Homo sapiens: one gene and its partner. The protein of the gene in region 1 binds, or shares a complex with, the protein of each later gene. Each region holds a gene or a part of one and is shown on either strand. Other genes may lie near its edges. A codon is read from its position in the direction of its gene.

Evidence for each region.
Region 2: the proteins of ITCH (region 1) and TXNIP are in contact, whole or in part, in a crystal structure (PDB 5CQ2), measured with the Homo sapiens proteins. Residues at the interface, in NP_001244066.1 of Homo sapiens: Glu485, Arg487, Thr489, Tyr495, Val497, Asp498, His499, Arg502, Thr503, Thr504, Thr505, Tyr506, Leu516; in NP_006463.3 of Homo sapiens: Pro328 (codon at 794), Glu329 (codon at 791), Ala330 (codon at 788), Pro331 (codon at 672), Pro332 (codon at 669), Cys333 (codon at 666), Tyr334 (codon at 663), Val337 (codon at 654), Ile338 (codon at 651).

The regions. Positions count from the first base shown.
Region 1 is NC_000020.11:34,358,444-34,366,427, reverse strand, and holds the start of ITCH (E3 ubiquitin-protein ligase Itchy homolog), read right to left. Parts: upstream 3,156-7,984; 5' UTR 3,079-3,155; intron 1-3,078. UniProt on the Homo sapiens protein: Acts as an Acts as an E3 ubiquitin-protein ligase which accepts ubiquitin from an E2 ubiquitin-conjugating enzyme in the form of a thioester and then directly transfers the ubiquitin to targeted substrates.
Region 2 is NC_000001.11:145,993,494-146,000,988, forward strand, and holds the start of TXNIP (thioredoxin-interacting protein), read right to left. Parts: upstream 3,087-7,495; 5' UTR 2,774-3,086; coding exon 2,524-2,773; intron 2,252-2,523; exon of another isoform or gene 2,069-2,251; coding exon of another isoform or gene 1,984-2,068; coding exon 1,911-1,983; intron 1,799-1,910; coding exon 1,651-1,798; intron 1,539-1,650; coding exon 1,436-1,538; intron 1,308-1,435; coding exon 1,051-1,307; intron 945-1,050; coding exon 788-944; intron 675-787; coding exon 523-674; intron 394-522; coding exon 358-393; 3' UTR 1-357. UniProt on the Homo sapiens protein: May act as an oxidative stress mediator by inhibiting thioredoxin activity or by limiting its bioavailability.

The DNA of each region.
Region 1 (7,984 bases):
GTAAAGAGAACCTTTCTCTACAAAAAAATTTTAAAAATTAGCCAGGCATGCTAATGCATGCCTGTTGTCCCAGCTACTCAGGGAGGCTGGGGTGGGAAGATCACTTGAGCTCTGGAGGTCCTGTCACTGCACTCCATCCTGCGTGACTGGGTGAGACCCAGTCTCAACAACAAAAAATCACTTTTCATATACTTGCTTCCTTTAACCTTTCTGACCTTGCGTTTCAAAATGCTCTCCTTCCCCATTCCACTCCACACTCCCTGAACCCTTTTTGTTCCATAATCCTCTGAATTTACACACAGCATTAAGGCATTCACTCAGCCTACCCTGTCCTTCTCTTTCCCCGCCCTTTTCACACTCCTACTCTTCATGTAAGACCCAATGTGGGTTCAGGGGCAAATCTTGCCTCTTCTAACCAATCCTCCACCCAGCCACACACACAGAATTGGCCACTTCCTCTTTCGTCTCAAAGCTTTTTGACCTTTCCTTGGTAAGTCTACAGTACCATTTGCCCTCAGTGGTTCCCAAGACCATCAGAATTACCTAAGGCATGTGTTAAAAATAAATTGGTTGAAGCCAACCCAGACCTACTAAATCCATCTCAGAAGGTAAGACCCTGGAATTTCTAAGCTCTCCTAATTATTCTAATGGTCAAATTTGGGGACTACTGGTTTGTCTGCCTCTCCCAATAAGTGAAAAGATGTATTTTTTAGGGCCAGGAGTGGCGGCTCATGCCTGTAAACCCAGCACTTTGGGAGGCCAAGGCAGGTGGATCACGAGGTCAGGAGTTCGAGAGCAGCCTAGCCAATATGGTGAAAACCCATCTCTACTAAAAAATACAAAAAAATTACCGGGAGTGGTGGCACGCGCCTGTAGTCCCAGCTACTACGGAGGCTGAGGCAGAAGAATTGCTGGAACCCGGGAGGCGGAGGTTACAGTAAGCCGAGATCACACCACTGTACTCCAGCCTGGGTGACAAAGTTAGATTCCGTCTCAAACAAACGAAAAAGATGTATTTTTTTCTAAAGAATGTAGAAATGTTTGATTCTAGAATACACTGAAGAAGTAGTCTGTACTCATTTTTTTAATTTCATATGATATCCTTGGTGACTTGACCTGTATGCTGAATGTAATGGAATTCCTTTTGGACTCACAAAACTTAAATTCACAGTTCAAAGAAGCAGTAGAATTTCCACCTTCATTTCTAAATTTTTTTTTTTATTTTTTGAGACAGGGTCTCACTCTGTCACCCAGGCTGGAATGCAGTGGCAACGGTAACAGCTCACCGCAGCCTCGACCCCCCGGAATCAGGTGATTCCCCCACCTCAGCCTCCTGAGTATCTGGGACCACAGGCGCCTGCCACCACACCCGGCAAATCTTTGTATTTTTTGTAGAGACGGGGTTTCACGATGTTGCCCAGGCTGATCTCCAATTCCTGGGCTCACGTAATCCGCCCACCTCGGCCTCCCAAATTGCTGGGATTACAGGCGTGAGCCACCACACCCATCCCATTGCTTTTTTTTTTTTTTTTTTTTTGAGGCGGAGTCTCGCTCTGTCGCCCAGGCTGGAGTGCAGCAGCGAGATCTCGGCTCACTGCAGCCTCCACCTCCCGGGTTCAAGCCATTCTCCTGCCTCAGCCTCCCTAGTAGCTGGGACTACAGGCGCGCGCCACCACGCCCAGGATTTTTTTTTTTTTTTTTTTGTATTTTTAGTAGAGACGGGGTTTCACCATGTTGGTCAGGATGGTCTCGAACTCCTGACCTCATGATCTGCCCGCCTCGGCCTCCCAAAGTGCTAGGATTACAGGCGTGAGCCACACACAGCACCCGGCCCATTTCTTAATTTTAAAAATAAATCGTAGCTTAAATAAACCTGTAAATACACATAGCAAGCTCTCAGCAGATCTGCCATGAGAACTTCACCTCAACTGATAAACCATTCCTTAGCCGATTTTGAGAATGGAAATACACTGCCTTTACATACTTCCTGAAGATCGAATTCTATCAGGAAAAGATGCAGGAGAACCCACCTAAGTGGGTGGCTGGCTCCAGGGTCTTACTAATTTTCAAGGCAAAAATCCCACAATTCCCCATCCCCCACTCCAAACCAAGTATACTGTAGCTGTGGAAGAATGGCAGAAAATGTAATAAGATTAGGATACGAATACAACCAAGAAAACAAGGTTGCGTTGTTATTGGGGATAATGAATTCCTGGCCCTTTACAAGTTCACCTGGTTACATGTCCAACTAACTTTAGGCCCAGCGTCTACTTCGGGCGCACAAATTCTGCGATTCTCTTTTCTGTCGCGGACGGGAACTGTCTTGGAAAACTTGAGTTCTCCACTTAAAAGTCATGTCATCATGCTTCGACCCTTAGAATACGTTCAACGGCTACTTTTTTCTTTTCTCTGCTAAAGAAAAGGGCACTCTCCGGAGGAAGGGCAGTGACAGCTCCACGTCTGCAAAAGTCGGCGCCGCCACGACGGTGGCGGACGTCGGGGAGGGCGCCGGAGCCGGGACCACCACGCCGGGGGGACAATGGAAGGAGGAGGCGAGTGGGAGAGAGAAGGGGAGGCAGCCGCTGTGCTGGGCCCTTCTAGCGACTGGGGGCTCGGAAAAGTCTCGAGAAGGCCAGCTGGGTGGCGGGGGACCCGGCCGCCGCCCCTCACAGGGCCACGTCGCCCGCGCCGGCCCCGCCGCCGGGCCCCGCGCGTAGGCCGAACCGCTGGAGAGTGGCCCCAGGCGGGGCTGAGGGGCGAGGGGCCGGACGGTACCCACGCCCGTCGTGGCCCAGCCCTTTCACAACTTGGAGCCCGCGAGGCGAAGGCCTCCGGAAGCCTGTGCCAGACACTGATCCCTCCGAACGTCCAGACAGCCCACCCCCACCGCCCGGCCCGGGCCAGTAGCCCGAGCTCCCCGCGCCCCCGACAGACACCGGCTCTGGAAGAAGGAGCAGCCGCGGCTCTGGGGTCCCGAACCGCGCGTCCCACTCCTCTACCCTTGTTCTCCCCGAACATTCTCATCCGGACTCCCTCCCTCTCCCGAGAACTGCCCCGAGTTCGCCCACGGGGGTTTACCGGGACTCGGGGCGGCGGCGACTCCTCAGTCCCTAGACTAAGATGGCAGCCGGTCCCGAGCCCCGACCACAGCTACTAGAGCGAGTTAGCAGCTAAAGCGCAGGCGCCTGAGCGCGGAAGTGGTCTAGACTACAAGCCCCAGCAGGCCTTGCGCGCCAGCCGTCCGGCCCGCCCCTGGCTTGAAGAGCTGGCTGCGGTGGTAAATCAGTTAAATCCCAGTTTTCCTCAGCTCCAGGTGAGATGGGCGCGAGCGGCTCCCAGCACCTCCAGGCTTTTTTTTTTTTTTAACACCCCGCCCACCAGAGCCTATAAGGACTGTGATTCTCAAACTATGGTGTGCATCAGAATCACCTAGAGAGCTTATTAAAACTTACACTGCTGACCCCCACCCCCAGAGTTTCTGATCAGAAGATCTGGCATAGGAGGATAGGGTCTGATAATTTGCATGTCCAACAAGCTGTCTAGTGATACTGCTAGTGAGTGAAATCATAATTTGAGAACCAATGGGCTATATAGCTTAGTTTATAACTTAGTTGTTCTTTTTTCTTTTTCTTTTCCTTTTCTTTTTTTTTCTTCTTTTTGAGATAAGGTCTCACCCTTCACCCAGGCTGGAGTGCAGTGGTGCAGTCATAGCTCACTACAGCCTCACACTCCTGGGCTCAAGCGAGCCTCCCACCTGGGCTTCCTGAGTAGCTGGGACAGCAGTTGAGCACCACCACACCCGACTAATTTTGTTCTATTCTTTGTAGAGATGGGGATGGGGTGGAGTGCGGATGGGATGGGGCGGGAATAGGGCCACGGTGTCGCCATGTTGCCCAGGCTGGTCTCCAGCTCCTGGGCTCAAGCGATACTCCCTCCTCGGGCCTCCCAATCGCTGAGATTACAGATGTGAGCCACTGCACCTGGCCTGGCTTAGCCTTTAACAATGTACATTAAAGGGCGTGGTTAAAAAGAAAATAAAAGAAAAAAAATGTACACTTGAGAGTTACACTGACCGGATTCAAATCCTCCCTTTTCTACCTTTTAACTGGGTGCCCTTAGGGATGATGACAACAGCTTAGTGGAGCCAACGTGGCCTGTCCGGTATTCTAAGAGCTGATACCAAGCTCCCTTTATTCTCACAACAAACCTATTACAGAAATACCATTATTATCCCCATTTTACAAATATATAAACTAAGTCACATACTTGATAAGAACCCAGGCAGTCTGGCGTGAAAGTCCGTTGTCTTAACCTTCTTCATGGATTGCTTGTGAGAAATAATAGGCTATGCAGGCAGAGACTCAGAGGTATGACTAAGTGCTCAATACTTAGTGACCTTTGCTATTACTGTTTAGCCTGTTTCCTCCTAATGAAAATAGTATTTTGCCATCTGGAAAGTCACATTTTTCAAAGTGACTTTTTTTTTTTTTTTTTTTTTGAGACAGAGTCTTGCTCTGTCACCCAACCTGGAGTGCAGCGGTGCAATCATAGCTCACTGCAGCCAACCTCCTGGGCTCAAGTGATCCTCTCACCTCAGCTTCCTGAGTAGCTGGGACTCCAGGCTCAAGCCACCACACTATCCTAATTGTTTTTATTTTTGTAGAGACGTGGACTCCCTGTGTTGCCCAGGCTGTTCTCAGACTCCTAGGCTTGGCTAGGGTCAGTGGCTTACACCTGTAATCCCAGGAGTTAGGGAGGCCAAGGCAGGCAAATCACTTGAGGTCAGGAGTTTGAGACCAGTCTGGCCAACATGGTGAAACCCCGTCTCTTTTTTTTTTTTTTTTTTTTTTTGAGACAGAGTATTGCTCTGTCGCCCAGGCTGGAGTGCAGTGGCGCAATCTTGGCTCACTGCAACCTCCGCTCGCCTCCTGGGTTCAAGTGATTCTCCTGTCTCAGCCTCCTAAGTAGCTGGGACTACAAGCGCATGCCATCACGCCTGGCTAATTTTTGTATTTTTAGTAGAGTTGGGTGAGCCACCACGCCTAGCCTTGTGAAACCCCTTCCCTACTAAAAACACAAAAATTAGCCAGGTGTGGTGGCGGGTGCCTGTAATCCCAGCTACTTGGGAGGCTGAAGCACGATAATTGATTGAACCCAGGAGGGGGAGGTTGCAGTGACCCAAGATCACGCCATTGCACTCCAGCCTGGGCGACTCAGCGAGACTCTGTCTCAAAAAACAAACAACAAAAGAAACATAAAGGCTGGGCGCAGTAGCTCACTCCTATAATCCCAGCACTTCGGGAGGCTGAGGCGGGTGGATCACCTGAGGTCAGGAGTTTGAGACCAGCCTGGCCAACATGGTGAAATCTTGTCTCTACTAAAAATGCAAAAATTTGTTGGGCATGGTTTGGGAGGCCGAGGCGGATGGATCAACTGAGGTCAGGAGTTCAAGACCAGCCTGGCTAACATGGTGAAACCCCATCTCTACTAAAAATGCAAAAATTAGACCGGGCACGGTGGCTCACGCCTATAATCCCAGCACTTTGGGAGGCCAAGGCGGGCGGATCACGAGATCAGGAGTTCAAGACCAGCCTGGCTATCATGGTGAAACCCTATCTCTACTAAAAATACAAAAATTAGCCGGGCGTGGTGGCGGGTGCCTGTAATCCCAGCTAGTCAGGAGGCTGAGGCAGAGAATTGCTTGGACCTGGGAGGCGGAGGTTGCAGTGAGCCAAGATCGTGCTACTGCACTCCATCCTGGGCCACAGAGCGAGAATCTGTCTCAAAAAAAAAAATGCAAAAATTAGTTGGGCATGGCACACCCCTGTAATCTCAGCTACTCGGGAGGCTGGGGTGGGAGAATTGCTTGAACTCAGGAGACGGAGACTGCAGTGAGCCAAGATCACGCCACTGCACTCCATCCTGAGTGACAGAGTGAAACCCCATCTAAAAAAAATAAAAAATCAAACTCCTAGGTTCAAGCCTTCAAGCCTCAAGCAAAGTACTTTCAAAACCACTTCATGTTTCCTGCAACATGCCTTAGGAAAGATTGCTAAAATACAGATTCCTGCGCCCCATCCTCATTCAGTTTCTCTAGTGCAGTGGTTTTCAAACCTCAGTACTTATCAGAATTGCCTGCAAAGTTAGTTAAACTGTAGGTTGCTGAGGCCACTCCTAGAGTTTCTGATTCAGTAGGTCTGGGGCAGGGCCTGAGAATTTGCTTTTTTTTTTTTTGGAGACTGAGTCTCACTCTGTCGCCCAGGCTTGAGTGCAGTGGCCCAACCTCCGCTCACTGCAACCTCTGCCTCCCGGGTTCAAGCGATTCTCCCGCCTCAGCCTCCCGAGCAGCTGGGATTACAGGTGCATGCCACCACGACTGACTAATTTTTGTATTTTTGTAGAGATGGGGTTTCACCATATTGGCCAGGCTGGTCTTGAACTCTTGAGCTTGTGATCTGCCCGCCTTAGCCTCCCAAAGTGCTGGGATTATAGGCGTGAGCCACCGCACCCGGCCAGTACAAGGTATTTTTATGACCATTATACAGAGAAGAAAACTGAGTGTGACAGAAATTAAATGGCTTGTTGAAGATCACTCAGCCAGGAACCAGGGATCTAACCCTAAGTCCTGTAGCTCCAGATTCTGTATTCACCTACAATTTTAAAAACTATGTAAGGTTAGGCAAAACTAGTCTATGGTGTTAGAAGTCAGGATACTGGTTACTCTTTGAGGGGAGGGTGTACCTGGAAGAAGGCACAAAGACACCTCTCAGGATAGGTAATAATGTTCTGTGCCCTGATCTGGGTGGTGTTACTGTTTCAGGAAAAGGGTCCTGATTCAGACCCCAAGAGAGGGTTCTTGGATCTCGTGCAGGAAAGAATTTGGGGCAAGTCCATACAATAAAGTGAAAACAAGTTATTTATTTATTATTCTTTTTCAGACAGAGTTTTGCTCTTGTCACCCTGGCTGGAGTGCAGTGGGGCAATCTCAGCTCACTGTAACCTCCGCCTCCTGGGTTCAAGTGATTCTCCTGCCTCATCCTCCTGAGTAACTGGGATTACAGGCGCACACCACCACACCCAGCTAATTTTTGTATTTTTAGCAGAGGTGGAGTTTCACCATGTTGGCTAGGCTGATCTTGAACTCCTGACCTCAGGTGATCCACCTGCCTCGGCCTCCCAAAGTGCTGGGATTACAGGCATGAGCCACGGCACCCAGCCGATAATGAGTTTATTAAGAAAGTAAAGGGGCCGGGCGTGGTGGCTAACGCTTGTAATCCCAGCACTTTGGGAGGCTGAGGGGGGTGGATCACGAGGTCAGGAGTTCAAGACCAGCCTGGCCAACATAGTGAAACCCCACCTCTACTAAAAATACAAAAATTAGCTGGGCGTGGTGACGTGCGCCTATAATACCAGCTACTCCAGAGGCTGAGGCAGGAGAATTGCTTGAACCAGGACCCAGGAGGCAAGGTGGAGGCTGCAGTGAGCCGACATCGTACCACTGCACTCCAGCCTGGGCAACAGAGCAAGACTCCATCTCAAAAAAAAAGAAAAAGAAAAAAGAAAGTAAAGGAGGCCGAGCGTGGTGGCTCACACCTGTAATCACACCACTTTGGGAGGCTGAGGCGGGTGGATCACTGGAAGTCAGGTGTTTGAGACCATCCTGGCCAACATGGTGAAACCCCATCTCTACTAAAAATACAAAAAAAGTTAGGCAGGCATGGTGACGCACGTCTGTAATCCCAGCTACTCAGGAGGCTGATGCAGGAGTATCGCTTGAACCCAGGAGGTAGAGGTTGCAGTGAGCGGAGATCCTGCCACTGCATTCCTGCCTGGGAGACAGAGCAAGACTCCCTCTAAAAAAAAAAAAAGAAAGTAAAGGAATAAAAGAATGGCTACCCCATAGTCAGAGCAATGGCTCGAGATGCTGGTCTAAGGATAGAGTTATTTCTTGATTATATGCTAAACAAGGGGTGGATTATTTATG
Region 2 (7,495 bases), on another chromosome or scaffold:
CCAAAAAACCTTGAAAAGCTTACGCCAGGAGGCCATTTTTACCTGACCCGAAACTATCGAAAAGGCCTCAATTTTCAAGGAGATCTGAGAAAATGGATGGGCCTGAGTTTTTCTAGTTATTTTTAAACCCATCCAACAAACACCCCTGTATCACAACATGGGCGCTGGCTGAGGATGAGTCCGCATCCTTTAAGGCCCAGGAGATTGCCTGCTGACCACCTCCTACATTAGGAAGTCAGAGGCTAAGGTGGACCCACACTCCATTGCAGAGACTGTTGAGTCTCTGAAAAAGTGAGTGTCCAGGAAGAGAGACAAAAAGAAACAAGTAGGTAAAGCTGCTTCTTTTCTTCCACATGCTCACTGCACATTGTTGTTGAGGATGCAGGGATCCACCTAAAGAAAGAAACAGACTATTTCAGTTCAGGTAAGAACAAAAAGAACAAACCAGTTTAGCAATCCGTCTAAGTCAACTTCTTATAGAAAGCTTAGGACAAATTTAACAGTAAAGATGACAATCCTCACCTCAGTATAAGTCGGTGGTGGCATGAACTTGAACTCAGGGGCATACATAAAGATAGGGCTGTCTTGAGAGCCATCCATGTCATCTAGCAGAGGAGTGGTTGGGCTCTCCAATCGGTGATCTTCAGGAATGACATCCATATAGCAGGGAGGAGCTAGAAAAGAAAATATGGCCACATAAGAATCCTGCCCAAGAAATGCTGGACCATCACAATTTTACAAACCCAGGTAGACCAGAAACAAAGAAAAGACATTAGGTCTGGCTCACCTTCTGGGGTATCAGGGATGTTCAGATCTACCCAACTCATCTCAGAGCTGGTTCGGCTGGCCATGCTGGATGTTCTGCTGCTTAGACCTGATCTGCTGCCAATTACCAGGGGCAGGTCAAGGATGACCTTCTTGGATCCAGGAACGCTAACATAGATCTAGAAAGGAAGATGGCAGTTTATTACACCAGAGGTCTGGAGAAACAAGACAGCTGTGGTAACAGATGAACAATTTCTCTGCTGAAGCCACCCTGCATCTACCCACCAGTAAGGAATATTCAACTCGAAGGATGTTGCAGCCCAGGATAGAAGGCCTGATCTTCTGAACCCGAAGGCTCTTGCCACGCCATGATGCGCATGTCCCTGAGATAATATGATTGCCTCTGACTGATGACAACTTCTGAGTCAGCACCTTGGTCTGGCCATTGGCAAGGTAAGTGTGGCGGGCCACAATGGCAGCTTTGGGGACCACAATTCGGGAACATGTATTCTCAAAGTCAGCATGGATGGAAATCTCATCACCTAGCAATGAGAAAGATGAAAACTTACTGATACTCAGTATAGTTAATGACACTTCCTCTACCCCAGTCCCATGCCCTTGCCCCTAAACCCAGTTCCTGTTTTAACTGCCATAAGCACTAGGATTTTACCTTCACAGAATCCTTTTCTGTCAATTCGAGCAGAGACAGACACCCGCCCATCAGGAATGAACATGCAGGAAACTTTCTTTTCTTTTTTAGCAGACACAGGTGCCTATATAGAAGGGGATAAAAAGGTGTTTTGAGATGCTTCAATCTAATGCCCAAGACGTCTGATTTATCATCCTCATGACCCAGGAGAATAGAATCTTTAAAATGGATCTCACCATTAAATCAGGGGTATTGACATCCACCAGATCCACTACTTCAAAGTTTTTCTTTGTCTCTTGAGTTGGCTGGCTCGGGCGGTCAAGAAAAGCCTTCACCCAGTAGTCTACACACCCATATTTTCCTTTGAAGGATGTTCCCAGAGGCCTGTGTCAAGAAAATGAAAATTTTAAAACGCTCTCCAAGAACAGTAAGTGATCAAAGGAGGGCAAGATATTTTAGACAGAAAAGTTCAAAGATGCATTTAGCTGATATTTACCCCTGAGGAAGCTCAAAGCCGAACTTGTACTCATATTTGTTTCCAGGTCTCATGATCACCATCTCATTCTCACCTGAAGGGAAAGAAAATCGAGTAGCCATTAGGCTTGCTGTTACACTTAAAATGCATCTGTGTGATAAGGAATGCTTGGGTGGCATGCAAGGTATTGAAGTACCCCCAATTTCATCCCATATATATATTTTTTAATCCATCCCATATTGTTCTTAAAGAGAAATTCTGATGTATTTTGTCGGGCAGCAAGTTGCCAAGCCCTGCAATACTGAAAGATTCACCCAGGACAGTTCTCTACTAACATCTCAAATAGGAAGTAGACAAAGAATAAGCAACTTATGCACACATAAGACTTTAACTACCCGAGGCAACGCCCCTCAGGATCCCCTTTAGGACACAGCACCATAAAAAATTGTACAAATCACCCTTTTTTTTGGGGGGGGAGGAGAATGTCTGCAAATTAAAACAGAAAAAAGGAAGCAACAACACGTAATTCAAACCACTCAAACTGAGCAACTTAAAACATTTCGTACAGGTTTTGTGTATTCAATTCTCTTCTCTAATCAGCTTTCACCCTCCAACAATGAATTGGGCCGCTTACCTGTTGGCTGGTCTTCCAGAAGAAGCGTGTCTTCATAGCGCAGGTACTCCGAAGTCTGTTTGCACTGCTGGGATCCCTGCATCCAAAGCACTTTAGCCACTCCGCAAGCCAGGATCCTAACGGCTTTGACACGAGTAACTTCACACACCTCCACTATCACCCGGCCAGCCACCTTCTCGCCACTGCCGTACACCTTTTCAGGGTCGTTAAAGACCACCTCAAAAGACTTGATCTTCTTGAACATCACCATGATGGAACTGAGTTGGTTTTAAGAGTTAGAAATGACGGTGGAAGAAAAAAAAAGCTCCAAATCGAGGAAACCCCTTTGCAAAAAATTATTTCACTTTAAGGAATTAAGGTATTCTTAAGCAGTTTGAGCTTAAAAATAAAATAAGATTTAAACAAATGAATATTAACTACTAGGTTTTCGAAAAGGCGCCTAAAAAATATACGCCGCTGGTTACACTAAGCTAATTCAGAGAAAAAGCCTTCTTTCCCCCAATTGCTGGAGAAAAGATCCGATCTCCACAAGCACTCCTTTGGAGAAAAAGAGGGGTTAGTTTCAAGCAGGAGGCGGAAACGTCTCTATATAGTAGCCCGGGCCAGAAGAGCCACGCGAGCGCTGGCCCGGAGGCTCGTGCTGCCCTCGTGCACATCCCTCCCATTGGCTGCCCGGTCCTTGTTTACCAGGAGCCCGACCAATCAGTGAGATCGCTGTGGCGCGTGGACACGGTGTGCTCCTGGCTGGGAAAATGGTTGTTGCGCTCTGGAGCGGCGCAGGGAGGGGGGAAGGAGAGGAAGGAGAGGAAGGAGGGGAAGGAGGGGGCTGTTGAGCGTCTTCTCCCGGGTCCAGTGGAAGGAGGATCCCACTGACCCTAAAACCTAGCCAGGGCGACAGGCCATCGGAGGGCGGGTGTGGACGTTTCTGGTCTGAGAGCGGTGTTTTGAGGTAAAAGGAAAATGTGCTTATGAGGGAATTTCATGCCTAGTCTTAGCCAGTGCAGTTACTTTAGAGCCTGTCGTTATTCCTGGCTCATAAATAGCAAGTGTGTGAAAATCCCATAGCTCCAAGAATACTTTCAGGTTTGGGGCTGTGGAGCGCAGAATGCTTGGTGTTACTGTTCAGGAACAGCCCTTTGTCCTTCTCTTGCCCCGCATCCCTATTAAGTATAAAAAACACCACCGTCTCTGAGGGAAAGGAGAACTTTCAGGCCTCATTGTGTGTGTAGGACCGATGTCTTCTCCTTCCCGTTCCAATCCCTTGGGGCTAGGGCTGGGGGCTGCGTGCCTGTGCTGTTCGTCACCCACCCCCAGCTTGTACCCTCTCTTCTGTTCTCTCTGTTCTGTGGAACGGAAATAGGAGGGGCGTGTTTACATCCTGTTGCTTATCCTGTCATCTCTTCAATTTCTACCTGCAAAGTTGGGGAACACTTTGTCTGTGTTCCCCATTTACCTCATTACCTCTTTAGTGAGGTGTGTCCAGGCGCTCATTATCTCCCACTTCCTACCTGCTTCTGGAGGAAAAGGAAAAGCGGGAAAAAAAGGATGCTTCACTCTTTTCACTTTTTTCCAGTTATGTTCACTCTTTCTTGTCTCCATCCCCTCTTCCAACTCACTAAATCAAATGTACATCCATAAATCTGGTTAAAAGTGAGAAAGTCCTCTTGTTTATATCCAAATTTTCAGTGGAGAGATGGCCACACACCTGTTTGAAGGAACAATTTTAAAAACTATTTTCAAAGGTTTTTCCCTAAACGGTTTAGAAAACAGTAAGAAGGAAAAGAGAAGAAAGATCGGTCAACAGAGCACTATAAATTCAAGCCAGAAGAGACCCTACCCTCTCTCTTCATTCTTTGTTGGTTTCGTTTGGCCAGCTGTCAGATGGATTTTCCCCTGCTGGCTGTGAGATGCTTTAGGAGCTGAGTACTGAGAACTTACTCTTAAATGTAATAGGAAAAACCTGTATGCAAAAGTGCAGGGATTCTTCCTCCTTTTATTTGATTCATAGACCCTTCCTATATCTGTGCTGGGGTATCAGAAGATTATTATTTAATTCCTTGTGCTGGAAAGAGGAAGATAATGTCCCAAGATTGAGATGGGGAGGTAATTAAGAAGCATTCAAGTATATTGAAACCCTACCCAATCAGCAAAAAAAAAACAATATTCATTGCTGTTAAAGAGCCTTCTTCCTTCCTCAGACAGCCTAGCTGGATTGACACTCTAAGGCTAACGAGAGTTACAACTCAACCCCAATATTAAGCAAGCTCAAGAATAGGCATCATGAGTCTCTTCGAAAACACACACATGCATTAAACCCCAGGAACATGTTGATCCTTAGGGTGTGTTTGAGGCGGCACCCTGTTCTAGAAACTTAACCAGCTAGGCTTGAGGTGTTTTCAGTTGGTTAACAATATTGATTGAGTTACTGGGAGCAGAGGAGGTGGAACTCTGACTGAAGTAATTTTTTTTTTAAGGTGGAATCTTGCTCTGTTGCCTAGGCTGGAGTGCAGTGGCCTGACCCCAGCTCACTGCAACCTCTGCCTCCTGGGTTAGAGCGATTCTCCGCCTCAGCCTCCTGAGTACCTGGCATTACAGGCATGCATCACCACGCCCAGCTAATTTTTGTATTTTTAGTAGAGATGGGGTTTCACCATGTTGCCCAAGATGGTCTTGAACTCCTCCTGACCTCAGGTGATCCACCCGCCTTGGCCTCCCAAAGTGCTGGGATTACAGGCGTGAGCCACCGTGCCTGGCCTGACTGAAGTAATTTTAAAAGTTCAAAATTGTGGCTTCTGGGAGAACGTTTAGTTTGATGGGTATGAAAGTGTAACTATCAAACATCAAAATGCTGACAAATATATGAATCAATATTGTTAACTACATAGTCAATATTGTTAAATATTGTTAAATCTTAACTACATACATTTTGAGGGAATAGGAAAGATGGTGGCTAGTGATGGATCAGGGTGGTGGTAATATGGGACATCTTAAGACATCCAACTCTCAACCAGGTTGGAATGCAGTGTCACTTGGCTCACTGAAACCTCCACATCCCAGGCTCAAGTGATTCTCCCACCTCAGCCTCCCGAGTAGCCGGGACTACAGATGTGCTCCACCACGCCTAGGTAATTTTTGTATTTTTGGTAGAGATGGGGTTTCACCATGTTGGCCAGGCTGGTCTCAAACTCCTGCTCAAGCAGTCCGCCTACCTGGCCTCCCAAAGTGCTGGGATTATAGGCACCCTTTTCCCTTTCAATTTATTTGATATTTATGTGGGCACATCTCTGAAGTACTGAATTGCTGAGTTTTAAAAAATCCTATGACAATTCTCTCGTTCTAAGTTTCTCTTCTGGGCTCTGGTTTCCTTGTATCTTCCCATTTGCAGAGCTCACTACAGACTACGTTGCTCTGTGTTATGCCTGGGTTCCTTTAAATGCCAAAAAATTATTTAGCTTTGGCAGCAGCTGCTGCCTACCAGGCCTGTAGCCAAGGCATGTTCTGAAGTGGAGTCCTCCTGGACACGGTTGTTTACGACCTTTCACCTTGTAACCTGGTATTCTGATAAAAACCTGCCCCGATTCTCCTTTCCCAGTTCTTGGGTCTAAGAAGAAAGAAATTTTGTAAACTCTTGTCCTAAAATCAGGGTATAAAAACACTTGTGAGGTTTGGGAAAAGGGGTGGGCCAAGGAGGAACAGCAAAGTAGGGCACAGTCAAAGAGTTTTGCAAGTTGGATCATCTTTATCTGCCCCTTCTCTACCCTCTTCAGTCCCAGTGCCAACAGGAAACCAAGTGGTGATTGTTGTTTGTTTGCTTTACTGCAGGTGACAGAATAAAGCCAGCAGTTTCAGGGAGGGAAGTGCCCTCAGCACTTTGTTGCCAGTCAGAGACAAGACACTGATTGCATTTCTCTTTTCTTTAACCTCTGGCCTGACAAACATTTAGAACATGAAGACTCATAGTTCTTAATGCAGAACAAAGCCCTTTCTTGGTCCTTTTAATCACTTCTCTCACCTCTACTCTGTAAACTTCCCTTTTACCCTTACCCATTTTCCTTTCTCTCTCTCTTTTTTTTTCCACATAGGGTCTCACTCTCAACCAGGTTGGAATGCAGTGTCACTTGGCTCACTGAAACCTCCGCATCCCAGGCTCAAGTGATTCTCCCACCTCAGCCTCCCGAGTAGCTGGGACTACAGATGTGCTCCACCACGCCTAGGTAATTTTTGTATTTTTGGTAGAGATGGGGTTTCACCATGTTGGCCAGGCTGGTCTCAAACTCCTGCTCAAGCAGTCCGCCTACCTCGGCCTCCCAAAGTGCTGGGATTATAGGCACCCTTTTCCCTTTCAATTTTTTCCCTAAGGAATTTAGAGGCAAATTAAGAGTTTGAAGACTGCCCCAAGTCATAGATCAATAAGAATAAATTAACAATTGTAAGCCAGGTGTGGTGGCTCATGCCTGTAATCCCAGCACTTTGGGAGGCTGAAATGGGAAGATCACTTGAGGCCAGGAATTCAAGAAGATCACCCTGGGCATTGTAGTGAGACCCCATCTCTCTTTAAAAAAAAAAAAAAAGGCTGGGCGCGGTGGCTCACGCCTGTAATCCCAGCACTTTGGGAGGCTGAGGCAGGCAAATCACGAGGTCAGGAGATTGAGACCATCCTGGCTAACACAGTGAAACCCCGTCTCTACTAAAAATACAAAAAATTAGCCGGGTGTGGTGGCAGGCGCCTATAGTCCCAGCTACTCGGGAGGCTGAGGCAGGAGAATGGCGTGAACCTGGGAGGTGGAGCTTGCAGTGAGCCGAGATCTCGCCACTGCACTCCAGCCTGGGCGACAAAGTGAGACTCCATCTCAAAAAAAAAAAAAGAATTGTATAGCATGTTAGAGTTCCAAGTGACTTTTTAAGTAATTGCCATTTATTGAGCACCTATAATGAACCAAGTCTTTTATATAATTATGTCAGTGATAATTAT